Linked DNA regions of Homo sapiens: all the other regions are linked to region 2. Evidence: fine-mapped expression QTL. A gene starts in region 2. Each other region holds a variant in brackets. All regions are shown on one strand. Distances are from middle to middle. Region 1 overlaps GPR107 (G protein-coupled receptor 107). Region 2 holds the start of GPR107 (G protein-coupled receptor 107). Region 3 overlaps GPR107 (G protein-coupled receptor 107).

Region 1 (10,115 bases), 79 kb before region 2:
GCTGTGGCCATCTTTGTTTCTGAAACAGTCTTATCTCATCTGTCCACTGCTGCTCTGGAAGGGTCAGGACCAGCACTGCAGACACTCGGCCATGCTGTGAGTGAGCCCAGACATACGCGTGGAATCTGAACACCCAACGCTGGCGTTCCCGTGCCAGTCTGAGGGCTGCGGCTCCAGCGCTTGTCCACACACACGCCTGCCTCTCTCTAGTTCCTCCACTGCCTGGCTTCCTCGCTTGCAAAACCCAGCATGTGAAATGAGGACACCTCCACGGAGACCCTTCCGAGCAGGGAGGTTTCATCACACCTTTCGTTCTTGCCAAGGAGTCTATCGCCTCATCCACAACATCTGCTTGCGGGAGAAACAGCAAATGTGTCCCTCTGAGGGAAGGACTGAGGAGGGCTTTGGTAGTCACAGATTGAGACACATTTCTGCGAAAACTGGTATTATGTTTCTGCACAGGAAAACAAAGTGTTAAAAATATTCCCATCCTCCCTCCAACTCCCTTCTGTCACACAGTCCCAAGTGAACTTGAAAAAGGTCCAGAAGTGAACACTTAGGGTGCATTTACCTTTCTCCTGAAGATGGGAAGACACACGGATGCTTGCCTAAAATATCTGCCGAGAGGTGAGCAGCTGTGGCCTGGGAAGGCGCTTGCTCTTCCTCCACATCAGCCAGAAGGCAGATCACACCTTCAGAGCACCCTACAGAACCCAGATGGCGAATCAAAGTGCAGAAAAAGAACACCCGCTTCCTCATTAGTCATTTAGGAAGATAAGATAGCATGGGACAGGGAGAACAACCATGTTCTGAATGGAGACTTTTTCAGGTTCCCAAACTTGGGACAGTGAGTGTGACCCCACATCCTGTGGTTTCTGCCTGACCCTTCTAAGCCAGAGGTGAGAAAACAACTCCCAGAGACCACGACTCTCACCCTCGGAGGTACCTGTTCCCCTGCAGGTGTGGCTCTCTGACAACCCCTAGGCAGGGGTGGGCTCCAGCTTTTGGAAGCAACCCTACCTAGCTGGCCCCCCAAGCATTAAGAAGCTTCCCTGATGGGGCCATGTTTTGGTCTCCTTTTAAGCCCTCAGTCACAATGTACCTTCTGAGCTTGTCCTACTATTCAGATGATTTTCTCTCTGAGTTGCAATACTGCTCAATTTAGGTGGCTACCTGTGTTCATTCAAGCTCTGGAAGTGTGGAAGGGAACTTAATCATTGAGTTTCTGTGAAGTATTTTGCCATCCTAAAATCCCTGAGAGTGAAACTGTTGAATCATGCTCACTTTCTTCACATACATACTCTTGGACTATGGGGACCAAGTCTGTTGAATTCATCTATTTAGAAATCCTACTAGCCTACAGGAAAAGCTTTTTAATGGGGATGATTTGCTTGGACTTAAGTATTTGCTTAAATACTACCTATTCTGCCCCCAGCTGCTCCTTGAGGAAAACTTTCCATTTCCCCCAAAATTCTGATCAAACACAACAAAGCCACAAGCATGAAGGGAAGCCAGACAGTGCTGCTCTGGGCTGTCAGGGAGTGGATGTCCAGGCAACGCCACAGGATAATGCTTTTTGAACTTAAAAATACATTTCTTTCCATCCATCAGGCAACATCTCAGTCAGAAAACCACCTCCCACCACCTGTGCTGTGCCACAGGGCATGATCCTGACAGCGACATCACAGCCTTCTTTTCCTGTTGGAAAGAAGACCACTGGGCCTCAGGAGCTGCTGTCCTGGTCACTCTCAGCATCTGGAATAAGGGTCTGGGGCAAAGCCGAGGGCAGGAATCCTGGGGCAGGTGCTACATCCTAAACTGGGTTTTGACTTTGCTTTCCAAAGTCACCTGTTTTCGTTCATTTTTGTCTCCCAAACAGGCAATGGCACTCTCCCCGCCCTTCTTCTTAAGTCCCAGGGTCCTCAGTAGACATTTCCTAAAGCATCAGACAGACACCTCGCACCCTCCTTCCCCCTCCACCAGCCGTCCTTGCTACACTTCCCCACACATGGGGTCACAACTGCATACACCTTAGAGCTCCGAAATGAAGAAGAAAAAAAGAAACCTAAATTAAAAATGAATTCTTCCTTTTCTCTTCCTCTCCTCCTCCCTGTGCCCGCCCTCCCATTCCCGCCTGAAAGAGGATCCAGCTGCCTCTAAACAGCCACAGATCGTTTCCATAAAAGAGAGTACAAAATCAGGTTTCCGCGGCACTGTGCTCCAGCCATGTGCCCTGGTGTCACTGTCGGTGGTGCCAATAGTTCACTGTAGGAGCTGCTCCTGCTGTCCAATAGGACTATGAATAAGTTAACAGTTTCCTTGGACAGTGCCATCCTCAGGGTCGGCTCTGTCACACGGCGCCTTCCCACTCGCCCTGGGGCTCCACGGAGCCGTTGGTCACCTTCTTGACTTTCTTCATACTTTCCATCACCCCAGATGTTGTCACACTGAACAAGGAAAGAAAAAACAATTAGGAACATCTCACAGTCTCTTAGTAAAAGGCCATCTCTGCCACAGCACGGTGATTAGGACTGATGATGGGTGTTGGTTTTTGAAACAGACAAAATCTAAGTGTGATTCCTGGTTCGTTCCTTACTAGCTGTGTAACCTTGGCCAAGTCACTTGAACTCTCTGTGCTTAAGTAATTCTCACTTTCCAGAACTGTCATGAGGAAAAATGAGATTCTCCAGAGTGCCTAATCAATAAACACCAGCTATCGTTATCACAATCATCATGAATCTTTTTGTCACAGCTTGCGGAATTTTTGTGGCGCACAGATATGTGATAGTTACGCTTATGAGACTGAAATCTGACTCTTAATGGACATTCAGAAAAGAAAGCTAATTAGCCAACCAGACATTTTTAATAAGCAGCCACAATGGATCATTTCTGAGCCAGGGGACAGAACCACAGGTTTAGAGGAACCTTCCAGGATCAAAGATTCTTTGGCCACTATAGACAGAGAACTGGCTGCTTTCTGCTAGCTGGGGCTGGGCCATGTGGCTGTGCCTCAGCGCATGGCCTCTGCCTCCACTCTGTGAGCTCCCGGGGCTCTGTCTGTTGGTGCCTGGCTCTGAGGAGGCCCCATGGAGCCATTCGTTGAAATCAAGGATTAAAAATGGAAGATCGCTGGTCTCGCAGGGCATGAGGAGCTGAGCAAGGCAGCCCTTTCCATTAGAAGGAATCACATGCACGGGCCCCACCTTCTCAAGAGGATAATCTCTTGCCTCACAGAAGGTGAGCTGGTCTATGAGGGAACTGGGTGGCTCTGTGAGTAGCAGAACTAGGCAGAGATACTGGGTGTCAAAAGCCGCTTGGCCCAGCATCTTCCCTGCAAGCGAGGAAACAATGAGGATTTATGCTCCCCCATGGTGGACCAAAAGAAATTTCCTCATCAGTAAAATAAATTCAATCAATCAACTCAACAGGCTCTTTCCAAGGACCCAACCCATCCCTCTGCCAACTACCTAACCCCTTCCCCTACAAATGGCAACACAGTGGCCGTATATGTGACCCATCTAGAGTGCATGCAGCTGGACCTCATGGTAAGTAAATGTTTGTATGGGGTAAGGGAAGAAAACTTCCCCCTCTTCTTCATCTCTTCATTCTTGCCATTATGGTGCTACCATGCCCAGGCTCAAAGAATCCCCCAAGCCGGAACCTTTCTCAAACGAGTCCTTTAGACTCACAGGTTATTTGTACTTATGGCAAAGTTGGGACAAGGTATGTGGCCAGATCCCATAGATGCTATAAGTGACTCTAAAAGCATCCCCTAAGACGAAAATGCCTCAGCTGAAGCC[G/A]CCCAGCGTCACTTCTGGCCAGCTGGCTTGTGTCTCAGGCCTGGCCTCTTTAGGAAGACACTTGCCCCAGGAGGGATCCATGTGCACAGGGCTGCTCCTGAAGGGACCTTCTCTAGACGGGGATGCAGGAGGTAGGGCCTTTGCATGAGCCAGAGAAGCCCCTGCCCCGAGCCACGTAGCAGCCCCCGTGCCTCTCCACAGTGACTGAGACCACAAAGAAATGCGACCCCACGTCTTCCAGAAACACTCCAGTAATCACACAGCTGTCCTATGGTTACTGCATCTTGTTAAAAAAGGACAAAGAGTTCAATGCACGTTGATTCTAAGAGGCAAAGCGCATTCACTGTGACCCGGATATGGGCCTGACGGCAGACTTGGGAAAAACATTTTCTCCCTTTCTTTCTCTAAGAAAATACTCCTTTCCACATGGTGGGCCAAGTGAGAAAACAACTTTTATTCTTCAAGACAGGCCTCATGCTAGGTCATCAAGGAAAAAGAAGTGGTCTTATTGCTCTTCGGAGCCCACAGCCCAGGAGAAGAGATGGTCTTCCACAGCAACCCTGCAAAGCCACTTCCAACAGAGACAGGAGTGCTGGGAACCGGGTTCGGTGATGGCTCGGGCTGAGAAGAATCCCTCTGCCGGGGAATCGGGGAAGCCAGGAAGCCCGTCATGAGATGCAGAGGATCTGGCCCACAAGATGGGTGGGAGGTCAGGGGAGTTTCCAAAAAGAAGAAATATAACAGGCAAAAAGCATGAAGGAAAAACCCAGGACATTTCCCAGGGCAGTGAGGGAGTGCTAAGTACTTGCAGTGTGTGGATTGTATATGTGTATATATATATAAATATATAAAAATATATATATATTTTTTTTTTATTTGATTTTTTGAGATGAAGTCTCGCTCTGTCACCCAGGCTGGAGTGCAGTGGCGCCATCTCGACTCACTGCAACCTCCGTCTCCTGGGTTCAAGTGATTCTCGTGCCTCAACCTCCCAAGTACCTGGATTATAGGTACATGTCCCCATGCCCAGCTAACTTTTGTATTTTTGGTAGAGATGTGGTTTCACCATGTTGGCGAGACTGGTCTCAAACTCCTGACCTCAGGTGATCCACCTGCCTCGGCCTCCCAAAGTGCTGGGATTACAGGCGTGAGCCACTGCACCTGGCCTACGGCAAATATATTTTAATACATCCAGCCAGTCTGGGAAGGAGAGTGGCAGGGAGAGAACCAGGGTGGACACAGGACGGCAGGGTTGTCGAGGGCCCAGTCTGCCTGGTCACCCAAGGATGGCCTTGATTCCTACTCTGGCAGTTCTCAGCCCTGCCTCCTGCTCAGGCTGCCCTGGGGAGTGAGAAAAGCACAGATCCTGAGCCCAAGGGGTGAGAATCAGAGTCTCCAGGGGTGCGGCCAGGAAACTGGCACTGCAAAAACACTCTACAGGTGATTCTAGAGCCCGGGAGAATGGACAGGAAGGGCTGGGCACACCTGTATTCCCAGGGCAGCTCACGCCTGCATTCCCAGCACTTTGGGCGGCTGAGGCGGGAGGACTGCTTAAGCCCAGCAATTTGAGACCAGCCTGGGCAACATGGCAAAACCCTATCTCTACAAAAAAATACAAAAACATTAGCTGGGCATGGTGGCATTCATCTGTGGTCCCAGCTATTAAGGAGGCTGAGGTGAAAGGATTGCCTGAGCCCGGGGAGCTCAAGCCTGCAGTGAGCTGTGATAGTGCCACTGCACTCCAGCCTGGGTGACAGAGTGAGACCCTGTCTGCAGGGGAATAGAAGGATGGACAGGAAGGGGAGAGGATCGGGAGTGAAGAGGTCAGCCACCACAAAGCCCAGGCACGAGAGCAAGAGGCGGGGTGGGGCTGGGGGTGAGAGGCACAAAGTAAGGCCTACAGGACGCTCTGCACGGGCTGAGGAAGAGGGACGTGGTTCAGCCATGGCTGCAGGAGACTGGGTGGATGTCCGTGTCACCAAGGCCTATAGGGAACAATGGGGAGGGGCGAGCTTGGTGTGATGCAGGAAGACTGTGGCTTCAAGGCTGAGGTGACGCGGAGCAGGAGGACAGGGGGACCTGGCATTCAGGAGGGGCCGGGGGCAGTGAGGGGGTAGCAGGGGCAACCCTGGGCTTGGGTGAGTCCTGGGAGTGCGAAGAGGGAGAACGGGAGTAAGGGTGTGTGGTAGCGCAGGAGGTTGTCACAGGCAGGGCGGGTGACAGGGAGCTTCAGTGTGTGGCCAGGACTGGGAGTGGCAGAAGTGAACTCAAGGAGAGGAAGAAACCTGATGGCAGATGCCCAGGGTGGGGTAGGCGCTACATCCTGTTCCCCCAGCAAACCTCTGGGAAGCTGAAGGGACACCTGGGGCCCCCACGATGTGAGGAAACCTGGCTAGCCCCCTGCAGACAGGGCGCCCGCAACGGTCCTGGAAGCTCAGGCTCTGCAGCAGTGAGAAGAGAGACCTGGGTCAGATGAACACCCAAAAGCCTCCCTGGCAGGAACATACGGCGGTGGGGCTTCAGCAGCTTCGCAGCCACCTCACTAGGTGTCCTAGTTTTGGTGCAAACACTTAAGGGACCGAACAGCTGAAGGGCCAACATCCGACCGCCGCAGATAAGCGTTCTTTCCTTGACATCTAAACAGTAACCCCCTTTCCTTGCAAAGCCCCAAGTCTCTGTGTTTGCAACCAAAAGTGCCAAATGGGACACAGGTTCCTTCTGCCACACAAGACTGCAATCAAATGTGGCTTGGGCCTAAGTGGTCCACGGATTCATGCGTTTTTTTTTTTTTTTTCTTTTTTGAGACGGAGTTTCACTCTCATCGCCCAGGCTCGAGTGCAGTGGCGTGATCTCAGCACACTGCAACCTCCGCCTTCCGATTTCAAGAGATTCTCCTGCTTCAGCCTCCCGAGTAGCTGGGATTACAGGTGCCTGCCACCACGCCCAGCTAATTTTTGTATTTTTAGTAGAGATGGGGTTTCACCATGTTGGCCAGGCTGGTCTCGAACTCCTGACCTCGTGATCTGCCTGCCTCGGCCTCCTAAAGTGCTGGGATTATAGGCATGAGCCACTGCACCCAGCCGATATATCCATTTCTATAACTAAAAAGTGTTTTCTGGTCTGGAAGTGTGGGGAGACCTGGTGAAGAGACAAGTCTATTAGTCCCCAATCCCCATTTCCACACACGTTCCTCGCCCACATGAAATAATGCAGGGAGTGGTGAAAGGTGAACAGCAACCATGAATGAGGACAGCGTTCTGGAATGGGAACCCCAGGGAGAAAACCTCCTGGCCCAGGAACCCACACCAAACATTTCCTTCCACTCTCACTCCTCAAGATGACAGAAGTAATTCAGATCATTGAGGATACCCACAGCCTAGGAGGCAGCTACCAAGTCTGATAATTGAAATCGCATCCGATACTTTTTAACTTGCTGATTATTGACCGGTAACTTCTGTTGCCAAAACTGGTAGGCCTAAAGAGAGATGGTCAAAGAAACAGAAGGGGAAAGAGAGAGAAAGTCAGTGTTACTTTGGACTGTGCCCTCATACCCAGGCCCAGAGAGAGAAGCTGTGTCAGGCCTGGTGGGGTAATGGCTGCACAGAGGGCAGCTGCGTGGGCCGCGTTGTCAAAGAAGCACCAAAACAAAATTTTAAAAAAATTGTTGCCACGAAACAAAAATACCTTCATAATGCATCCAGGCTCCAAGATGTAACGGCTGAGGGAAAGGATGTGGGAAGCGGGAACCTCCCATTACGACTGTGGAGTACAATGCAGTAAAGGAGACGATGCTGCGACCCGGCCGCTCGGCTTCTAGCTGCCTACCCAAAGAACCCCGTGTTATGCGGACGGACCAAGCCAAAGGCTCCCAGCAGGGGAATGATAAACACACCGCGTCTTAGGTTATTTCCTGATGCTGCTGGTTGCCAGCCTGACATGTGTGCCTCTTCAACCAACAGACACTTGCTCAGATCCTGCCACTTCTGGGAAAGGCACAGCTGATGGGCCTCCTGCACTCCTCTCCACTGTTTAGAAGGAGGTGTTTCTTCCTCTGCATGGGGAGATGCTGTTTGGCGCCCGCTGGCAGGACCTGCCTTCCTTTACTGTTGCCGTGGAGCTGAGCAGAGAGAGCTGTCCCATGCTGCCTGACCCGCTGACAGCCAAGCAGAGCTTAGCATGGGCCGAGTCTCAGCCTCTGAATTGGGAAGAATTCAAAGGCTGCCAGGGCTGGGGGCAGAACACTTGATACCAGTGAACCAAGAAGGGAAAACTCTGCCTTAGGCTAATCATCAAACACAGCATTGACCTGGCTTATCAAATTTCAGTTAACAAGCAAATATGCTTAATCACTACTCATTTTTCTAGACAATGATGGCCCTTTCCCAGAAAATAGGACCCTAGAGTCATTCACTGTGTGACTCAGAAAAGCCCCTATTAGTGCTCAGATATAGGTCAAAGTCATTGTGCTGTGAAAAGCCACGCAGTTATCTGACGATAGAGGATGTCTGAGGATCATTAGCAGACTTAGAGATGACTCAGAAGATTCCATTTTCAGACGTAAGCGCCTGATGGCGGGCCTGACAGAAAGTCGGCCCCCTGTTCTCCCTCGTGAACTGGCCACGTATATTCCTAAGTTCTTGCCACTGAGTTCTTGAAAGCAGGCTCCAATGATGCTTAGTGGAACGGCAAGTTCCATCTTCCCTGACAAGACCCAGCTAGGTTTGGCAGATACTGTACTTCAAACCAGATCAGACAGCCTGGGGCTCCAGTGTCCGCTTCCTTCTGCTAAAAATAGAGGAACCACCCCTGCAGCCACGAAATGCTGAGAGCAGCCGACCCGATTCACACTGTGCTGCTTTGTGTTAGGCAAAGGGGTCAGGGCTAAGGAAGAGGGAAGAAAGATTTCTTACACGGACTCCATTTCCAAGTCTTCTTCTTCCTGAGAAAGTTGTAGGTAGGGGTTATCTGAAGCCGGACGGAATTTATACCCCGTTAGAACAAAGAAGACCAGTGTGGCCGTTTCATCCAGGAGCTGCAAGTTTAAAAACCACCCCAAAATAAAGAGATTAGCAACACTGTTCTTCAGAAAGCAGTGGAATTCAACAAACTGACATATTTCCCCACAACCCACCACTCGATGGTTCTTTACTCAGATGCCACTTCCTGCTACAGGGCATTTTCCTTAGACTTGCCGAGGCCTAAACGAGGAGTGTCCTGCCCAGGGCTGACATTTCCGAGGCTGTGCTCTGCTGTGCTTTCACCAGTCTTCATGGGTAGCTTTTAAGAGCTCACCACATACCCACTTCCTCCCACAGTGCCTACAGCACCCAGTGAGTTATTCAAGAAAAAAGTCATTTGGTGGCTTCCTCTAGTAGTTAAGCTAGTTCTAGTTTGTCGCAAAGATACTTATTATCGAAATAATAAAATGGGCAAAGAAGAAGGGCAGCCTGAATTCTAACTACTCAGCCCTGTAACTAAAGGAAAGGACCACATCTCATCTAAGTTCTAATGATTCAGGGCAAATCTTTCTCTACCTGAAGCTTTTCTCTTGACTTTTAAGACTGAAAACTAAAATCAAGAATGCAATTATTTTCAGATTCCTCATAGAATCCAGCAGCATTTCTGGACAAACAGATCATCTCAATTATAGGCCAGAAGAGATGGAAGGAGGCCAAGTGTGGTGGCTCACACCTGTAATCCCAGAACACTGGGAGGCCAAGGTGGGCGGATCACTTGAGATCAGGTGTTTGAGACCAGCCTGGCCAACACTGCAAAGCCCCATCTCTACTAAAAAAACAAAAATTAACTGGGCATGGTGGTGCATCCCTATAATCCCAGCTACTCAGGAGGCTGAGGCAGGAGAATCGCTTGAACCCGGGAGGTGGAGGTTGCAGTGAGCTGAGATTGCGCCACTGCACTCCAGCCTGGGTGACAGAGTGAGACCCTGTCTCAAAAACTAAAAAAAAAATTTTTAGTTAAAAAAAAGAAGAGATGGAAGGTCTTAGTGGTCATTCCCAGATAAATTAGTAACAACTGTTAAGTTACACTTCAAGACTTTATCCTCAGGCATAAATTCTCTGGCATTCTGCCCTGTGAGCAGCGTACCTGGTAGAGCCACTTCCACTGGAATGGAACAGCGAGTTTGAGGAGAAATGCAATGATCCTAGTGAAGTATATGTAACACACAATCTGCATGAGGAGGAAAGAAACAGGAAATCAGATCAACATTAAAATTAGGACACCACTTTAACAATTTGCTTTCACAAATGAACTAGGAAACAGAAAACAGAATCACTCAAAGAAAAGTATGTGACA
Region 2 (10,269 bases):
TGTAATCCCAGCACTTTGGGAGGCCGAGGCAGGTGGATCACCTGAGGTTAGGAGTTCAAGACTAGCCTGATCAATATGGCAAAACCCCATCTCTACTAAAAATACAAAAATTAGCCAGGCGTGGTGGCGCATGCCTATAATCCCAGCTACTTGGGAGGTTGAGGCAGGAGATCGCTTGAACCGGGAGGCGGAGGTTGCTGTAAGCTGAGATCGCGCCATTGCTTTCCAGCCTGGGTGCCAGAGCAAAACTCTGTCTCAAAAAAAAAAAATAATAATAATAAATAAATAAAAAGGCAAGGAATATAGGGAAAAGTCAAAAGAGATGGACTGTGAGAAGACTGGGAAAGCCAGAAGAATGGTGGAAAATGTAGCATGGAGTAAGACAATAAAAATATAAGAGGACTCATTTCTAATTTTAAAAATAATAAAAAATAAGAACCAGAAATTGATGTATGTGGGATGAGGCAGAATCAGCCATGTGTTGATGGTTATTGAGGGTGACAGGCACATGGGAGTTCATTATGCTATTCTATCTGCTTTAGTATATTGGAAATTCTCCACAATAAAAAGGTTGTTTTGCTTTGTCTTTTTTTTTTTTTTTTTTAAGAAATAGGGTCTCACTCTGTCCCCCAGGCTGGAGCCATTATAGCTCACTACAGCTTCTGACTCCTAGGCTCAAGGGATCCTGCCACCTCAGCCTCCCTGGTAGCTGGGACTATAGGTATGCACCACCACATCTGGCTAATTTTTGTTGCTGTTGTTGAGATGGGGTCTTGCTCTGTCGCCCAGGCTAGAGTGTAGTGTCGCCATCATAGCTCACCGCAGCCTCCAACTCTTGACCTCAAACGAGCTTCCCTAAGTGCTGAGATTACAGGTGTGAGCTACCAGGCGCAGCCAGGTTTTAAGAGATCAACGCATACTCCTGGTACTCAGTGACCTCTTCATGTTATCCTTGCCATTATGGGTCTCTAATCTGATCAAGTACCCTATTTCACTCAGTCTCAAGCAAAACAGACAATCTAAAGTTGCTGCTCTGACAGGCTCTCTTCAAATGATTTCCATTTCCTTGGGCAAGAACTCAGAACAAGCTTGTCCAGGATGCATGCGGCCCAGGATGGCTTTGAATGCGGCCCAACACAAATTTGTGAACTTTCTTTTTTTTTTTTTTTTTTTTTTTTTTTGAGAAGGAGTCTCGCTCTGTCACCCAGGCTGGAATGCAATGGCGTGATCTTGGCTCACTGCAAGCTCCGACTCCCGGGTTCATGCCATTCTCCTGCCTCAGCCTCCCGAGTAGCTGAGACCACCGGCACCTGCCACCACGCCTGGCTAATTTTTTGTATTTTTAGTAGAGACGGGGTTTCACCTTGTTAGCCAGGATGGTCTCAATCTCCTGACCCTGTGATCCGCCCATCTCGGCCTCCCAAAGTGCTGGGATTACAGGCGTGAGCCACTGCGCCCAGCCAAATTTGTGAACTTTCTTAAAACATTATGAGATTTTTTTGCAATTTTTTAAAGCTTATCAGCTATGGTTACTGTTAGTCTATTTTAGGTGTGACCCAAAACAACTTTTCATCTTCCAATGTGGCCCTGGGAAGCCAAAAGATTGGACACCCCTGACTTCGGATGTTTATTTTATTTTATTTATTTATTTATTTTGAGACGGAGTCTTGCTCTGTCGCCCAGGCTGGAGTACAGGGGCTCAATCTTGGCTCACTGCAACTTCCTACTCCTGGGTCCAAGCGATTCTCCTGCCTCAGCCCCGAGTAGCTGGGATTACAGGTACCTGCCACCACGCCTGGCTAATTTTTGTATTTTTAGTAGAGATGTGATTTCACAATGTTGGCCAGGCTGGTCTCAAACTCCTGACCTCAAGTGATCCACCCACCTCAGCCTCTGAAAGTGCTGGGATTACAGGCGTGAGCCACCGTGCCCGGCCAAGTTTTGTCTACATTTCTACATGCACTTTTCTGGAGAGAGGTTCTATAGCTCTCAACAGATTCTCAAAGAGTCAAAATTCACTTGCCCCACCCCCACCCCTGTGATTGAACCATTTTAATCAGGATAATTTTTACCTACAAACAACAAAAGTTGTTACCAAAAAGTAAGGTTGTATGGATCCAGTCAGGCTTGCATTTATTTATTTATTTATTTATTTATTTGAGACAGAGTATAGTTCTTTCGCCCCGACTGGAGTGCAGTGGCACAATGATCTCTGCTCACTGCAATCTCAGCCTCCCGGGTTCAAGCAATTATCCTGTCTCAGCCTCCCAAGTAGCTGGGACTACAGGCATGTGCCACCATGCCCGTCTAATATTTGTATTTTTAGTAGAGAGGGGTTTTGCCATGTTGGCCAGGCTGGTCTCGAACTCCTGACCTCAGGTGATCCGCCCACCTCGGCCTCCCAAAGTGCTAGGATTATAGGTGTGAGCCACCGTGCCCAGTCAAGCCAGGCTTTTAATTTCATTCTGTATTCTTTAAATTCTACATTAACAAAATACAATGCTTCATAGTTTGCTAAAACAATGTGTTTTTACAAGACAAACTTTCTACAGTTCCACTTCTTTTTTTTTTTTTTTTTGAGACGGAGTCTCGCGCTGTTGCCCAGGCTGGAGTGCAGTGGCGGGATCTTGGCTCACTGCAAGCTCCGCCTCCCGGGTTCACGCCATTCTCCTGCCTCAGTCTCCCGAGTAGCTGGGACTACAAGCGCCTCCCAGGTTCACGCCATTCTCCTGCCTTAGCCTCCCGAGTAGCTGGGACTGCAGGCGCCTGCCACCACGCCTGGCTAATTTTTTTTTTATTTTTAGTAGAGATAGGGTTTCACCGTGCTAGCCAGGATGGTCTCGATCTCCTCACCTCGTGATCTGCCTGCCTCGGCCTCCCAAAGTGCTAGGATTACAGGCGTGAGCCACCGCGCCCCGCCTACAGTTCCACTTCTTAGAAGACTGTATGGTATGAAAATAATGTACAAGAGTTTGGGTCATAACAATTTACTTTTCTATGTCTCTAATTTTGTTTATATGTTTTGAGAAAGGGTCTTGCTCTGTTCCTCAGGCTGGAATGCAATGAGTAATCACGGCTCACTGCAGTCTCAACCTCCTAGGCTCAAGTGATCCTCCAGCCTCAGCCTCCCCAGAAGCTGCAGGCGTTTGCCACCACACCTGGTTAATTTTTAATTTTTTGTAGAGACAGGTTTGGGGAGGGGGTCCTTAGCACGTTGACTAGGCTGGTCTCGAACTCCTGGGCTCAAACAATCCTCCTGCATAGGCCTCCCAGTGTTGGGATTACAGGCATGAGCCACAGCACCTGGACAATTTCCCAGATATAGTAAACTGCTGAACCACCTTAGGGTGCGTTTCAGCCTTAGAGGTCTTTTCTCTGCTAGTTACAAAGCAAGATCCAGAGTATCATTCTAGGTTTATCAAAAATCTCTCTTCCCTAGACAATGGCTGGATAGAGGAAGAAAAAGCAGGCCCTTTGATTAGAGACACACCTTAATGCTGGCTTTACATTCTCAGTCACGTGTTTTAAGCAAGATTTGAAATTCCTTCTCTAGAGTCTCGCTCCAGAGAGCGCCCTAAACCGAAATGGGAAACTGAGGCTAAGGTTCCAAGTACCTTCAAACCGCCGGTACAGTACAAGGGCACAGAAGAGCGGAGACCGCGGACAAGGAAAGCCAGCATAAAAGCTGGAGGGGAGAAAGAAGAAAGGCGATCGGGCTGCCCTGAGTGAGGAATTCAGGGAAGCCAGCAGGGATTTAAGAGCAGCCTCCCGAGTCCGTGGGGGCAACGCCACAGTTCAGCCCCTTCCCCTCCCTCAGCTCGAGTCTTCCCGCCCCGTGCCGGTCAGCCCGAAGACCCCAGCGCCGCCCAGACCCGCCTTCCCCACAGACCCCGCCACCTGTCAGTGAAAGGCCGCAGCCAGGGGCAAAGAGGTGGTCCAGTGGCTCAGAGGTCCCCAATGGGCCAAAGTTGCCCTAAAACCCGGGGAGTGGCCTCGGCCTCCGCCCCCCGGCCCGGCCTTGCCAAGCTTTACCTTGAGTGCCAGGTGATGGACGCGGCCCAGGCCAGGCTCGGCCAGCAACTGCAGCAAACCCAGCATTGGGAGCAGCCGGAGGCCCGCGGCCAGCCTAGGACCGCGGGAGGCGGGGGAGCCGACGGGCGCCAGAGCGGCCATGTTTGTTCCAGCATCACCAGCCGCTTCCTCTCCCGCCCACGTCCGGGGTGAAAGGGCGCAGCCGCCGGAAGGGCCCGGGGAGCGGGGCTCGGCGGCTAGCTCCGCTGACCCTGTGGTCGTTTTCCTGGAGATTGCGACCTAGGAAGTCGTCGAGGAGCCTGTGCTGCCCACCTCGGGGCCCTTCGATCGGCCGCTCCTGTGCAGACTTTCAGTTAGAGATGAAGCCAACCTATTGGCGGTTGCCATAACAACGGTGGCCGAACCAGACCAGCCCGGGCCGCACCTCCGCCTCGCTGAGCTTTGGAAGCGACCTTGGGCTCCGGGGACCCCTGATCTCAGGGTCGGGGGATAAGCTGTGTCAGCCGCACGGTGTCGGGCCACTGATTGAACTGATTTCACTGAGCGTTGACTCGGAGGAAAATATCTAAAAATTCCCGGCTCGCCGTAGGGGTCCTGTGGTTTTCTAGGCGCTTCACACTCAAATACAAGCGAAATGGTTGCAATAATACGATTGATTGAGCCCTTATGAGGCAATTTGTTAGGCCTTTTGTTGTATTTAATTTTTGGAACAATTTGATGAGCTAGGAGGTACGTATTATCATTATTCCTACTTTACAGGTAAGCAAACTGAGGCTCTGAGAAATAAGTCATTTGCTCCAGGTTGAGCTGGGAATCACACGGAAGCTCTTAACTCCTGTGTTCTGTTGCCTCATGCTATTTCATCCAACCCCAAGTCTGGGTCTTAACATTTTTCTCTTAATTCTGTATGGAAACTTTCTTTGCTTCTTTCAGAAATTATAGGAACTTCTTTTTTTTGAGACGGAGTCTAGCTCTTGTCACCCAGGCTGGAGTGCAATGGCACGATCTCAGCTCACTGCAACCTCCGCCTTCTGGGTTCAAGCGATTCTCCTGCCTCAGCCTCTGGAGTAACTAGAATTACAGGCCTGCGCCACCACGCCCGGCTAATTTTTGTATTTTTAGTAGACACGGGGTTTCTCCCATGTTGGCCAGGCTGGTCTCGAACTCCTGACCTCAAGTTATCCTCCCGCCTCGGCCTCCCAAAGTGCTGGGATTACAGGCGTGAGTCACTGCGCCCAACCTGCTTTGGAGTACTTTTTATCTTTTAAAGTTAAGTGGCATCTTTGAAAATCTCTGGTTTTAAATTTGAATATAATACTGTACTAAAAACGAAATGAGGCCTGGCAGGGTGGTGATTCGCGCCTGAATCCCAGCACTTTGGAACGCCGAGGCGGGCGGATCACTTGAAAGTCAGTTGTTCGGGACCAGCCTGGGCAACATGGCAAAACCTCGTCTCTACTAAAAATACAAAAATTAGCGGGGCATCACGGCCGCGCGCCTGTAGTCCCAGCTACTGGGGAGGCTGAGGCAGGAGAAGCACTTGAACCTGGGAGGCAGAGGTTTCAGTAAGCCAAGATCATGCCACTGCACTCCAGCCTGGGTGACAGAGTGAGACTCTGTCTCAATAAAAAAAAAATCAGGTAAGAATCTTAATCCCATTTTATAATACAATAGTGATGAAACATTAAAATAGTTTTAAATAGGAGACTTTTGTCTTAGTTTCTGGACAACAGTTTTATAAGGGCTTAAAACTGGGTTCATAGCATTCCTTGCTTCTCTATACTTGGGTATTATCATGTGACCTACATAGGGTCATACCAGTGCTGTCTGTCCAGGGGTTTAAGAGGATATCTTCTTCTTTCACATATTTGAAAGCTGTATTGTGCCAGTCATTATTTTGGAATTGAGAGGAATAAGAATGAGGGAAAACTGACTACAAAGACATTGTTGAGCATTTTCTCTACAGTTACTTCTTAAATTCTAGAAAACTGCTGCCTTGACAATTACATTTAGCCATGTGATTTCATAGTTTCAAGAAAAGATTATTTGCATAATCATGATGCTGTAACTGGAAACAAACAGGCTGAGTAACAGAACAAGTTATGCCTGCTTCTCCTGGCAACATTTTCAAAGGGACATTACACTTTAAGGTATTGACTGAAAAAGCCTGCAGGGGCTGGAAAGACTGATCTCCTAAGCTTGGCTTTTAGCCTTACTCTCTTAGTCAAGTACATTTTATTTTTCTATTTTCTCTCCTTTTTTTTTTGAGACAGAGACACTGTTGCCCAGGACTGAGTGCAGTGGTGTGACATCTGTTCACTGTAGTCTCCACCTCCCAGGTTCAAGGGATTCTCATGCCTCAGCCTCCCTAGCTGGGACCACAGGTGTGCGCCAGTATGCTCAGCTAATTTTTGTATTTTTGCTAGAGATGGGGTTTCACCATGTTGGCCAGGCTGGTCTTGAACTCCTGGCCTCAAGTGATCTGCTCACCTCGGCTTACCAAATTGCTGGATTACAGGCGTAAGCCACCCTGCCTGGACTATTTTCTCTAACTTTTCAGGATCAGCTTAAGGTTGCTACTAGAATGTGTAGTGTTGAATCTAGTGCTATTATTATTAAATAATTATTTGATATCGGTTTGGACATTTTCAGAACTCTTTTAAGTAATTAATGTGTTAATAGTCTCCAGTTTAAGAAAGTATAATTGCCATTTGTTTTTCTTATCAAAAGACTTGATAGGCCTGGCTGGTGTCTCATGCCTGTAATCCCAGCACTTTGGGAGGCCAAGGCTGGTGGATAACTTGAGCCCAGGAGTTTGCCACCAGCCTGGGCAACATGGTGAAACACCTTCTCTACAAAAAATACAAAAATTAGGCCAGGGGCGGTGGCTCAGGCCTGTAATCTCAGCACTTTGGGAGGCTGAGGTCAGTGGATCACCTGAGGCCAGGAGTCTGAGACCAGCCTAGCTAACATGGCAAAACCCCATCTCTACTAAAAATACAAAAATTAGCCAGGCATGGTGGCGCATGCCTGTAATCCCAGCTACTCAGGAGGCTGAGACAGGAGAATCGCTTGAACTTGGGAAGCGGAGGTTACAGTGAGCCCAGATTGTACCATTGCACTCCAGCCTGTGTGACAGAGCGAGATTCTGTCTCAAAAAAAAAAAAAATTAGCGAGCATGATTGCACCAATTCACTCCAGCCTGTGCGACAGAGCAAGACTCTGTCTCAAAAACAAAAACAAAAAAACAAAAAAAAAACACAAAAATTAGCGGGCATGGTGACACGCACCTGTAGTCCCAGCTACTCAGGAGGCAGAGAGGTGGTAGGATTGCTTGAGCCCAGGAGTCAACACTGGAGTAAGCCATGACACTTTTATCCAGCTTGGGTGACAGAGCAAGACCCTGTCAAATAAAAAAAAAAAAAGAGTTGATTGATATTGCAAACCAAAAGCCTCTGTTAAGACAGTATAGGAAACTAGTGGTCAAATTGGGGCCTAGCAATACATTCAGAAGTCAAATGCTACTTTTCATTCTTTGGCTTGAAACACCATTTCTTCCAGGATTGCAGCTAAAGTTTTCATGCATTTCTTGGGGTGTCGGGAATGCCTCCAAGTGCATCTTTTTGTAGAAAGTGATCATGGAAAAGCCAGGCTCTGACACACTTTGAGTCCTGTGGATTGGAGAGAAACTTCAAAATTACTCCTCAACCTGACGACCCTAGTGTATAACTTGCTCAGCCACAGGACAGGCAGTCTTTCTTGATTTTATGTACATCTTTACAGGGGAATTGGATTATTCGTTGTAAAAATTCATTGCAGTTTTAGCATTTCACTCACCATGGAGTTCCTGGTTTTATCCTACTCCACTTTTTCCAGTTGATTGCTTTCTTGAGTCCCTAGTAAGTAGTTCGAATGCAAAAGAAGTTGGAAATTTTAAGCTAAAAACAAGTAATTTTGAAGAAGAAAAAATCCTGAGAATTTCATTAGAAGTAGTTCTTCACCAGTAGACAACCAATCAACTGTAAGTTCAGGCAGGCGGTCCTGCTGCATCAGAAATGTTTAAAGGCCTGTATTCCCAGCTACTGGGGAAGATGGTTTGAATCCAGGAATTCAAGGCTGCAGTGAGCTATGATCATGCCACTGCACTCCAGTCTGGGCAACAGAGCAAGACCTCTCTAAAAACAAAAACAAAACACAAAACACACACAAAAAAAGAAAATGCTGAAAGGATTGCTTTATTTTCTACAATAAGTAAAAATCCTCCAGAAAACAGGAGGAAAGGAAAGGGAACTGATACTTGTGTGTATATTATGTGCTAAACATTTTATACGTATTCTTTCTTTTAATTTTTATTTTTATTTTTATTTTTTTTTGAGACAGAGTCTTACTTTGTTTCCCGGGCTGGAGTGCGGTGGTGCAATCACGGCTCACTGCAGCTTCCAACTCCCAGGCTCAAGCGATCCTACTGCCTCAAGCCCCCAAGTAGCTAAGCACAACCGTGCCGGGCTAATTTTTGTATTTTTTTGTGGAGACGGTTTCGCCATGTTGCCCAGGCTGGTCTAAATCTCCTGGGCTCAAACAGTCCTCCAACCTTCACCTCCCAAAGTGCTGGGATTATAGGCATAAGCCACCTTTCTTTCAACCTTTACAATAACCTTTGAAGTAGCATTATTTCTATTTTATTTTTTGATTTTTGAGACAGGGTCTCGCTCTCAGGAGTGCAGTGGCATGATCAAGGCTCACTGCAGCCTCAATTTACCAGGCTCAAGCAATCGTCCCACCTCAGCCTCCCGGGTAGCTGGGATTACAGTTGTGCACCACTGTGCTTGGCAAATTTTTTTATTTTTTGTGGACACCAGGTTTTTCCATGTTGCTCAAACTGGTCTTGAATGCCTGGTCTCAAGCGATCTGCCTGGCTTGGCCTCCCAAAGTGTTGGGATTACAGGCATGAGCCACTGTGCATGGCCATATTTACATTTTAAAGAAGAGGAAACTGGCCGGGAGTGGTGGCTCATGCCTGTAATCCCAGCACTTTGGGAGGCCGAGGCGGGCGGATCACGAGGTCAGGAGATGAGACCATCCTGGCTAACACGGTGAAACCCCGTCTCTACTAAAAATACAAAATACTAGCCAGGCATGGTGGCGGGCGCCTGTAGTCCCAGCTACTCGGGAGGCTGAGGCAGGAGAATGGCTTGAACCCAGGAGGCGGAGCTTGCAGTGAGCGGAGATGGCGCCACTGCACTCCAGCCTGGGCGACAGAGCCAGACTCTTATCTCAAAAAAAAAAGAGGAAACTGGGCCGGGCGCGGTGGCTCACGCCTGTAATCCCAGCACTTTGGGAGGACGAGGCGGGTGGATCACGAGGTCAGGAGATCGAGACCATCCTGGCTAACATGGTGAAACCCCGTCTCTACTAAATGTACAAAAAATTAGCCGGGCGTGATGGCGGGCGCCTGTAGTCCCAGCTACTTGGGAGGCTGAGGCAGGAGAATGATGTGAACCCTGGAGACGGAGCTTGCAGTGAGCTGAGATCGCGCCACTGCACTGCGACAGAGCGAGACTCCGTCTCAAAAAAAAAAAAAAGGAAACTGAGGCTTAGAGAAGGAAAGTAATTCAGCCAAAGCTCTCTATAGCTGTCTGGACAGAACTATACAAATCTGGCTAACACCAAAGACTGTACTCAACCCCAGTTCCTTCATTTCAGACTAATGACAACCTATGAGATCCCTGTCTTTTTTTTTTTTTTTTTTTTTTTTTTTTGAGATGGAGTCTTGCTCTGTCGCCAGGCTGGAGTGAAGTGGCGCGATCGCGGCTCACTACAACCTCTGCCTCCTGGGTTCAAGCGATTCTCCTGCCTCAGCCTTCTGAGTAGCTGGGATTACAGGCACACCACCACACCTAATTTTTTTGTATTTTTAGTAGACATGGGTTTTTGCCATGTTGCCCAGGCTGGTCTTGAACTCATGGGCTCAAGCGATCCGCCTGCCTCGGCCTCCTAAAGTGTTGGGATTACAGGCGTGAGCCACTGCGTCTGGCCAAGATCCCTGTCTTCTCAATGAGTAAACTGAAGCTCAGATAATGTAAGTAACTTGCAGAAGGCCACACAACTAATAAGTAGTGGAACACTGGGATCCCAATTTAACAATTTCAAAACCCTATCTGCTTTAAAATCTCATATCTATCTACAGCTATATAAATATCTGTCCACCTAAGATCCCGAATTAGATGTTTATTAGTT
Region 3 (10,269 bases), 51 kb before region 2:
CTGAGTGGGCCTTGGGAGGCTGGCCTCTGACCACTGACCAAGGCTCCAAGCCTGGGTATGACTTGCACACAGGCTGCCTAGGAGCAAGAGTTACGTGAACCTGGACAGCAGGAATGCCATACTATCTGTTCCAGGCCCAAACTGGCGAGATCCTCCAGAATACTGTGCTCTAAATAACAACCTAGGGCTGACCCTGGCGTGAAGCCTCAAAGTCATGTTTAATTTAACTTAAAGAAATAATGCGTTATTAGTTATATACCAGGTTTGTGAAAGAAGATTTACAGCTACTATGCATTTTCCGAATTTTCTAAAATGAATCTACATTGGCTTTATAATCAGAAATAGAGTCAGCAACAAAACTTTATTAACAAAAACCTGTTTTATTTATTATTCATAACCTGCATTAAAGAATGTTAATATCCACACTGGGTGTACGATACCATGGATCCAGAGACCGTTCTGAGCTTTGAGAGAAGAGAGCACTGCTCCTTAAACCCTTGTGGTCTGAAATTCTCACTTGTGCTATGGCAGCCTGTGGTCATGAACATTATTCAAATAAGCCCAGAACCACACAAAACATTTTCTTTGCAGCTTTTCTTCTGATTTAGGAGGCATGACTGGAAAGTCAAGGAGATGCAAAAGGGCTATAAAGGGCACAACCATTTCAATATCAGGTAGTTTTCAAGGTTCCTTCTGTCATCAGAGTCTTGCTTTAAATGAATACTGACACATCTATTTTGAAAGTGTGTTAAATCAGCAGGCAGGGCTGCTTTACACATAGCCATCTCCAATCCATTATCCCTCCTGTTCTCACAGCGAAGTGTTATCTGGCCCTTCTAAGACAAGATTTTCTCTTGCTGACTCAGTTTTGAGAAGGTGAAAATCACAACCACGAGTGGAAATGAAATGAATCATCTTAATAAGCAGCAGTCACCCCCAACCTCCTCCTTATACAACTGACTCAACACCTCCTTCTCCAAACTACCCCTGGCTGCTCTCACGAAGTGGGCCCCAGGCCTCCCCTAGCTCTCCTCCCAGGAAGACAGCATCTTGACACCATAGGCTGCCTCCACTCCTCCGCAGTGCCGCAGCACGTGGGTTCAGAGCAAGCTGAGCAACACAAAATGAGCACGAGAGAACTTGCCTTTTCCATCTGTTGCTGATGCTTCTTGTAAATGTCTGATTGACCTAAAAATAAACATTTAGAGAACAAAAAGTTAGCTGACAAATCTGCACTCCTCTCTATTTCCAGCTCTAGTAACTTGAGGCTGAATTTCTCAATTACATGCTGAAAGGTTGGACTACATCACTTTAGAGCACTCTCCCTAAAACGGGTAGAGGGGGGGAAATGGTTGATATCAACACGTCTGAGGTAAAGTCGCCCTCTGCTGGCCAAATCTGTGGCAATAAGTCTAGCAGGGACCAGAGCGTGAGGAGAAAACAAAACTCCATCATTTAATGCTCCTGTTAATCTCTCACTCCCACAACCACCCCCTACCCAACACTCCCATGACAATGGAGCATCACTGGGCTCACCTGCCACCAGGAGAGAATAAACCCTAGAAGAAAGTCACCAGCTGACTTCTAGAGTCTAGGTCTAAGAGCTGTGAACATACAGCACCATGCAAACTTATCGAGTGGAGATTTTTAACACTGCTGAAAAATGCCAGCCTCCAGGGACACTGTCTGGGGCTGTGATGTGCTGGTACCTAATGACCATCATTACATTTCAGGCAGAGGAACATTAACATTATTACAGGAGCCGCAGGTGAGAGGTGGAGGCACCATGAAAAGCCACCAACAGAGAGACTTCCCTGAGGGCTGAACAGGGCACAGGCAGACAGGCTGTGTGAGGGAAGGCGGCTGTGGTCTGACACTGTCACTCACTCTTGTCAGCAAATCAATTACTCTTCCTAAATCCTCCGTAATTTGCCCACCTGTGAGAGGGGCTATCTGCTTGAGAACTGAATGGAACACCACACGAAAGCTAACCAGTACACTGCTGGCCCTGAAGCAATGCTGGCTGAATCGGGATATTTACAAGTATTATTATTATTATTATTATTTATTTATTTATTTATTTATTTTGAGACAGAGTCTTGTTCTGTCGCCAGGCTGGAGTGCAGTGGCATGATCTTGGCTCACTGCAACCTCCGCCTCCTGGGTTCAAGCAATTCTCCTGCCTCAGCCTCCCGAGTAGCTGGGACTACAGGCACATGCTACCACGCCCAGCTAATTTTTATATTTTTAGTTAAGATGGGGTTTTGCCATGTTGGCCAGGATGGTCTCGATCTCTTGACCTCGTGATCCGCCCACCTCAGCCTCCCAAAGTGCTGGGATTACAGGCGTGAACCACCGCGCCCAGCCTAAAAATATTATTAATCTTGAATCACCTCTCCAGTACTTACTGACTTTTTTCATTTTACAGTAATTTTTAGGATATTTACCTTAAGGAATTTTGCCATTTGGAATCTGCTCATTAGTGTTGTAATTAACAAGGGGCAGGAAATGGCTGCTTACACCTCGACAGCTTGTTGGGGTTCCTTATATTTGACTATTCTGATAGTGGCATGTGTAAAAGTAGGGTGTGAACCTCTGTTCCCTAATGAGGTGCTCTTTTCGATCTGGAAACAATGCTGGACATCCTATGTTAGATACCCGAGTGACTAATTCCTGTGCAGGACGGCAGGAGGCTGCAGTGAGGAGGAAGAGTCATTCATATTCCACTGGGTGCGGTGGCTCATGCCTATAATCCCAGCACTTTGGGAGGCTGAGGTGGGAAGATCACTTGAACCCAGGAGTTTGAGACCAGCCTGGGCAACATGGCAAAACCCTGTCTACAAAAAATTGGCTGGGTATGGTAGTGTGTGCCTGTGGTCCCAGCTACCCAGGAGGCTGAGGTGGGAGCATCATTCATACTCTCTTCTATGCTGGTAGCTGTCTGCTGAACTGATACGAGATCATGTGTGATGTATGATGGAATGAGGGTGAAGAGTGAATCTAACTGGCTGGAATGAGAAGTACTCTCCATTTGCACCATGTTATAAATAATGAGAGTAACTGACAAACCCCAGGATCCTCAAAAATATTAATTTACTGGATGGGGCATTGCAATAAGAAGCACCTCAGCCAGCTGCGGTGACTCATGCCTATAATCCCAGCACTTTGGGAGGACAAGGCAAGTGGATCACCGGAGGTCAGGAGTTTGAGACCAGCCTGGCCAAAATGGCGAAACCCTGTCTCTACTAAAAATACAAAAAAAATTAGCCAGGCATGGTGACACGCACCTGTAATCCCAGCTACTCAGGAGGCTGAGGCAGGAGAATCACTTGAACCCAGGAGGCAGAGGTTGCAGTGGGCCGAGATTGAGCCATTGCACTCCACCCTGGGCAACAAGAGCGAAACTCCATCTCGGGTTAAAAAAAAAAAAAAGAAGCACTTGTAATGGAAGGCCGGGGTGAATCTATTTTCTTTAAAATTTATTTCAAAAGAATTGCATTCCAATAGCCATGGAATTATATCACTAAGGGTAAAGTGTTTTATTGCTGCTAGCCTTCTGAATTTCTACCACTCTGCATGTGATTTAATAAGGATATTTTCTCATCAACCACTGACTTGACACTAACACTTCTTTACACAGACCCAATGCACAATCTGTGCATCTAAACACTGCCATTTCCAGGAATGGAGCAATCCATTCTGAAAACATCAAAAATGTTTGTGTGCTGAGAACTATCACTAGTTTTATGTTAATGAACTTCCTCATTTTCCACCTAAGTTGGCAAGAACTGGCTGTTTATGGGATTTCTCCAACTCCCTACCACCACCACAAATTCAGGCTGCTACTTTAAGTTACTACCAAGTTCTCATTTCCCAATTCCTCTCTATTGTCTTAGAACTCTGTTAAATGCCAGCTCATGGTGACGGATTAGCTCTGCCAGAATACCCCGAGTAACTGGAAAAAGACACAGGGTTCTGCCCCTGGAGGCTGATTCAGGTCAGTCTGGGACTCAGAAAGCTGTACTTTTAAACACACGTCCCATGTGACTGAGATCAGTTTGGGAATGGCCAGTTCAGCTATTGGGCTTGACAGCCAAGCTGTCATGTGGCCTC[C/T]CTCCCTGTGAGCTACTCACCACACCACTGGGAAGAGGATGGCACCACAACACAACAGGTCGACCAGAAATAGAGAGTCCTTCCACAAGCCATATTCAGTCGTGCCCTCCTCGGTGGACTCTATGATGATGTAGGCTACATTTGCCAGGACCTACAGACATGAGAAGTTGCTGAGGCCCCAAAGCATGGGTGGACTGTTATGATGCTAGCAGCCCCAATGTGGGGTGTACACCTTGGCCTCCAGACCCACGATCTGCGACCACAGCATTCTTTCCAGTCCCACGTGCTCTTCCAGAACTCTGCCACTCCGCTATCAAGGAGAGTCTCTATGCCACCCCCCTGAATCTGCACAGGCCGTAATTGCTCTAATACAGTAAGATGGAAGTACTGCTGTGTGATTTCCAAGGTAGATAAAGCTTCCACCCAGCTCTCTTGGGACCTTTGGAGCCCTAAGCCTTCTTGTAAGAAGTCTGGCTACCCTGAAACTACCCTGCTGTACAGACCATGCAGAGATGGAAAGGCCCCCCCAGGAGCCCCGGCTGTCCCAGTCCCCACCTGAGCAAGCTTCTCAGCCCAGAAGACAGATGCGAGTGGAGACTTCAAGATGCTCCCAGCCATGGTGTGACTATGACCACAAGACCCAAGTCAGACCTACCCAGCTAGCCACTCTTGAATTCCTAACCCACAGAAACTGAGAGAGAGAATGACGGGTTATTGTCGTTTTAAGTCGCTGAGTTTTGGGGTGATTTGTTATGCAGCAGTAGATAACAGGGACACTTTGCTTTTCAGGTACCCCAAACCCAGTGGAGTCACTCAGGTGCTGGACTGCTGGATAGGTGGCACTTAACACCCTATTTAGCCACAATGCCCATACTTTTCAGGCCATGGTGCTCAGTGACAATAACTCATCTAAGTGCCAGACAATGGAACTGTGTTTTCAGAGACCAGAGGGTGAGCATGGCTGATTCCAGCCCTACAGCCTCATATACTCAGGCCCACTATTAAGCTCTGTACTCAGGCCCGTTATTAGGCTCTTAGCATAAGTCTTTATAAAAAGTCTTTCCACTGGCTAAACTGAGATGCCACAGAGCATAAGGGAAATTTACCACTTATAATACATCCTTTTGAAGATTACCACTGGGAATGGATGCAGAGGTTATCATTCCACCTATATACCCCATGAGAAGTCCCTGGTCCCAAATCTCTGCCTGACTTGCTGTAAAAGGTAATCCTCCACACTTTGCATGTAAAATCTGTAGTGCTATTATTTAGGAAGTCTCTAAGTTTAATTTCTCTTTCTATACAGGACTTAGAATCAAATTATCCGAAATTTCATTTAAAACTAATGCAAAAATTATCTGAAATTTCAGCCTCTCCAATGACCCCCAGCTTCTGGGTCCTTCCCTGTCCCACACTGCTCGTGAAGCCCTGTCTATCCAAAACACTAGCATCTGTGGCTCCATCTAAAAAGACAAAGTAGGGCTGGGTGCGGTGGCTCATACCCATAATCCCAGAAATTTGGGGAGCCAAGGCAGAAGGATTGCTTGAGCCCAGGAGTTTGACACCAGCCTGGGCAAAATAGTGAGACACGGCCTCTAATTAAAAAAAAAAAATTAAAAATTAGTCAGGTGTGATGGTGTACGTCTGTGGTCTCAGCTACTCGGGAGACTGAGGCAGGAGGATCGCCTGAGCCCAGGAGTTTAGGGCTGCAGTGAGCCATGATCACCACTGTACTCCAGCCCGGGCGACAGAGTGAGACCCTGTCTAAAAGTAAGAGGACAAAGTAGAAAACAAAGGCTTTCACATCTTAAATTCAAAATTCCATTTTGTCCTTAATTCACACACTGCATGAGAGACAGAATGTTCCCAGTGTTGAACAACGTGCCAAGAGTGTTCCTGAAACACCATTTTGCAGGGACATCATCTACTCCTTACTTAGAAACTTTCTGTCACTGCCCATGGCCAAAAGGAAGCAGTTTTAACTTTTCAGGCTGACATTTAAGGCCCTCCCAGACTAGTTCTATTGTCTAAATACTCATGACTTTCTTAATTTGTTAAATGTCCTTATCTTCTCAGACTGACATTCCATGGAACTCTGTGTGTCTGTCTTTCAGGGAAGCCCAGGACGGGCTTCCTGGAAGGCTATGCCCCACGACAGCCTGGTTCAGGCTGGTGGGGGGAGACTCTAGAGGGATGAGGGACTCTACTAAAGGGAAGAGGCACACGCAGCCGGGTGACAACCCAGTCTCCGTCATTCACAACTCCGAGACCTCGGCAGGCTGTAGGACTCAGTCTGGCTGAAGAAGTGACCACGGTGGCTCGACAGCCGAAAGACCGGCACAGTCCCTCAGCATGTTTTGCTTAGCAGACAGCAGGGTCATGTGTATTTACTGCCTCTGTCACATTCCTTTCCTTCAACACCCAGGCCAGCCCTATCTCTGTCACAAAGCCCTCCTTGATCCTTCCAACTTGAGTGCTTATTCTCTCCTTGGAAACACAGAGCAACTGGCCTGTCCCATTCATTTGATGTCAACACATGTTCCTCATTATTGAACGTAAGGGTGGATGAGGTCTGTTAGAACTCCGAGAGGAGCTCTGCTGCAAACTCTGCCAGAGTTGGGACGGCTGATCTGGGTGCCTCAGGAGTTGTCCCCTTCCACCCCCAACCTTCCACATTTACTTTGTGCTCCAAAATGTGAGAAAAGTTCACAGGGACAACTCTGTCAAACAGACGCTGTCTGGTCAAGCAGAGCAGGGTAGCTGTGCATCCCTGCTAAAACCTCTCTGTTCATTGTAAGTTCTTTACATCCAAGTTCTGCTTCCAGTAAGACAAGGCTCCTCCCGCAAAAGACTCACAGCCTTGTAAGGCTGGCCTTGGCCCTCGGCCCCAAACATGGTAAGGATTTAGGAAATGTTTGCCCCTCACGTCTACTACCATATTCTACCTGTGGAAACTCACTGGTGTAGTTCACGGTTTTAAAATACTTTGTTAATAAAATCACTACATCTCTGAGCTTCCTTGCCAAGGGCACCATTTAGTTATGAAGCAAATGATGCAGAAGAGAAAACAGTACTGTGTGTTACTGTGTGTCTCCCTGTCACTGTCAGCAGCTCTCTACTCAAAATCTAGGCCCCCAAAGGCCAGTGGCTGACTGATGCCCAAGCATCTCCCAGTGCAATGACCTGAAGTCTGTTCAGAATTCAGAAAGAGAATCTCAGTCTTCAACCTCCACTAGCAGAAGCTGGGGTTTCAGGGTGAGGTGACTCCCTCTTCCCATACAGGCTTGGAGCTGAGCCCTGCTAAGCGCCAAGAAAGGAAGTGACAAATGGGATGAGGGTTCTTTTACCTGGAGTGGAATGACAATCATGAAGATCTTTTTGTCTTTATCAGAAAGGATGTGCTTAATGAAAGCCCAGCCAGTGCCAATGAGTGCAATGGTGATGAAGAGTAGCGCCCCTTTCAAACTGGAAGAGAAAACAAGGAACAGACACCAGCAGGTCTCTTTAGACTCTCACTGCCAGTTAGATTGCATAGCTCATTCTATGAGTTCACAAGCTTCTTACAAAAGACGGGCAGCCAAATTTAGGAAATCCATCATACATGAGCACCACTTCCTTCAGGGCACACAGTTAGCTCTGCACCCCACAGCCTGGACAGCCAATGGCCGCAGAGAGGCAGGAGTATGCCACTAAGCCCGACTTCCCAAGTCTGGACAGCCACCCATGAGCTACACTCCTCTGGTATGGCAGGGGCCCAGACAGGCTGCCACAGGAGGGCAGGGCTGGTTAACTTGGGGCAGGTTGTTGCCCACCCCCCTTGTCTTGTATGTCATTTCATGGTGTATTTCACATGGACCTGCATACTTACAGGTGAGTTATGTAGTACACAACAGCCCAGCCTTCGATAGGGAAGCCCTGGGAGGAGATGTAGTGGTAGTCAATCTGAAATCAAACAACTGCATTTCAGAATCACTCATTATCTACATGGCTCCACAAAGAATCTTTTAACTTGGACCCATTTGGGAAATTATCCAAATCATTGTCATTTGGTGACGCTGCCACTGGATATATTATTGCCTTTTCCAAGGAGGCCACTTTCAAGTACAGCAAAGAGTACATGTCTAGAGACTGTCATCCTTGCAAGTGTGCTCCACGGGCACTTGGAGGCCCACAGACAGGAGAAGTTGTGATCTTACCCCCTTGGGCAAGTTCATTTTAATTTGCATAAGTTCCAAATATACAAAGCTGAGGCTCAATTCTCATGCCTCCAGCTTTATAGCATCAATTTTCTCTCAGATAAATATGCTAATACTGAATTGAACTTCAAATCACAGAGGAACATGAGGGAATATCTGGAAACATAAAAAAGTCGTGGAGGCCGGGCGTGGTGGCTCATGCCTGTAATCCCAGCACTTTGGGAGGCTGAGGCGGGCGGATCACGAGGTCAGGAGATCGAGACCATCCTGGCTAACACGGTGAAACCCCGTCTCTACTAAAAATACAAAAAAATTAGCTGGGCGTGGTGGCGGGCGCCTGTAGTCCCAGCTACTCGGGAGACTCAGGCAGGAGAATGGCGTGAACCTGAGGGGAGGAGCTTGCAGTAAACAGAGATCACGCCACTGCACTCCAGCCTGGGCAACAGAGCGAGGCCCCGTCTCAAAAAAAAAAAAAAAAAAAAAAAAAAAAAAAAAAAAAAAAAAAAGTCGTGGAAACAAGTCAGCAGGTGGCACTCTCATCTCTAGAAATGGTAAAAAAACAAAACAAACCAAAAACAAAGAAATAAAAACAATAATAAGTGTTCTAGAAAAACTGTAGGTCTGTAAGCAGTATTAGAAGATGTCTGAAGTCTAATATGAGGGGAGGTGGTAATCATTTACCCGCATGGCCAGGCCCTCCCAGACAAGAGGAGGCTTTATGAGAAATGTATTCTTTGTCTTTGTTTCCCACCAATCTATCCCCTTTCTTCAAATTTCTTTTGCCTGCTCACACAGGCATTATACGTAATTTCATGAATGATCCTCAAAATGCTAATACATACTGCATGGAACACCAAGGAAAGAGACTTGGTGAAAGGAAGGGCCGCCATCAGCCAGTGGATTTTAAATACATCATTCCTATAAAAACAGAGAGAAAACAATTAAAGGAAGATTCCATTCTCCCAAAGGACAGCCAAAGCTCCAGACATTAGCTATATTTATAAGGAGACAGGAAATATAATCTGTGCAAACCACAAACATGAAACTTTTTTTTTTTTTTGAGACAGGGTCTTATTCTGTCGCCCAGGCTAGAGGACAGTGGTGTCATCACGGCTCACTGCAGCCTTGAACTCAGGCTCAAGCGATCAAGCAGCTCTCAGGAAGCTGAGGTGGGAGGATGGCTTTAGGTGTATGCCACCATGCCCAACTAATTTGTTTTGTATTTTTTATACAGAAAGGGTTTTGCTAAGTTTCCCAGGCTGGTCTTGAACCCCTGGCCAAGCAATCCACCCACTTCGGCCTCTCAAAGTGTTGATATTACAGGCATGAGCCACTGTACCCAGCTAAAACTTTTTTTTTTTGAGACAAGAGTATCGTTCTGTCACCCAGGCTGGAGTGCAGTGGCACAAACTTGGCTCCCCGCTAACTCCACCTCCCGGGATCAAGTGATGCCCCCCCACCGCCTCAACCTCCTGAGTAGCCGGGATTACAGGCGTGCGCCAAGATGTCTGGCTAATTTTTGTATTTTTAGTAGAGACAGGGTTTCACCACATTGGCCAGGCTGATCTTGAACTTGTAACTTCAAGTAATCCACCCGCCTCTGCCTCCCAAAGTGCTGGGATTACAGGGGTGAGCCGCCACACCCAGCCACTTTTTTTATAAAGTACGTTTTGCTGGTAAAAAAGGCCTTGAATGGAGTCCTAAAGTAATCTCTAATACACAATTTAATGTTGTGAATGAACCTGAGAGTTATGCACCAAAGCTAGACATGATGGATTCCAACTCTTGAGTAAATGGAAATCTAACACAGGCTGCCAGCTTGTTCCCGGAAACCACCCTGGGAAAGCCAGAGGCAAGAATGAGGTAGATGGACCTGAGAAAACAGCACAGAACTCCTAGGAAAGCAGAAAGCGATTACAAATAGCTGTAGGGGAAGTCTGCAGCCCAGAGTAGGGGGACT

Evidence for each region. PIP is the estimated chance that this variant, and not a neighbour inherited with it, causes the effect.
Region 1: its variant is fine-mapped to the expression of GPR107 in whole blood (TOPMed, PIP above 0.99).
Region 3: its variant is fine-mapped to the expression of GPR107 in whole blood (TOPMed, PIP 0.99).

What each region holds. Positions count from the first base shown.
Region 1 is chr9:130,127,357-130,137,471 of GRCh38, reverse strand. GPR107 (G protein-coupled receptor 107) reads right to left here. Exons shown (of 18, transcript NM_020960.5): 16 at 9,906-9,989; 17 at 8,711-8,832; 18 at 1-2,447. The coding sequence ends at 2,351. Among named protein-coding and RNA genes, the nearest start is that of GPRACR, 12 kb to the left of the region's middle. RefSeq lists an enhancer at 8,295-8,514. The variant G/A (reference allele first, on the strand shown) is at 3,801.
Region 2 is chr9:130,047,837-130,058,105 of GRCh38, reverse strand. It overlaps GPR107 (G protein-coupled receptor 107), which reads right to left and starts at 4,200. Exons shown (of 18, transcript NM_020960.5): 1 at 4,033-4,200. The coding sequence starts at 4,173. It also overlaps a transcript of FNBP1 not described here. RefSeq lists a silencer at 3,903-4,212 and an enhancer at 8,752-9,252.
Region 3 is chr9:130,098,415-130,108,683 of GRCh38, reverse strand. It overlaps GPR107 (G protein-coupled receptor 107), which reads right to left. Exons shown (of 18, transcript NM_020960.5): 10 at 9,152-9,227; 11 at 7,982-8,055; 12 at 7,461-7,578; 13 at 4,134-4,264; 14 at 1,145-1,188. Among named protein-coding and RNA genes, the nearest start is that of GPRACR, 41 kb to the left of the region's middle. The variant C/T (reference allele first, on the strand shown) is at 4,114.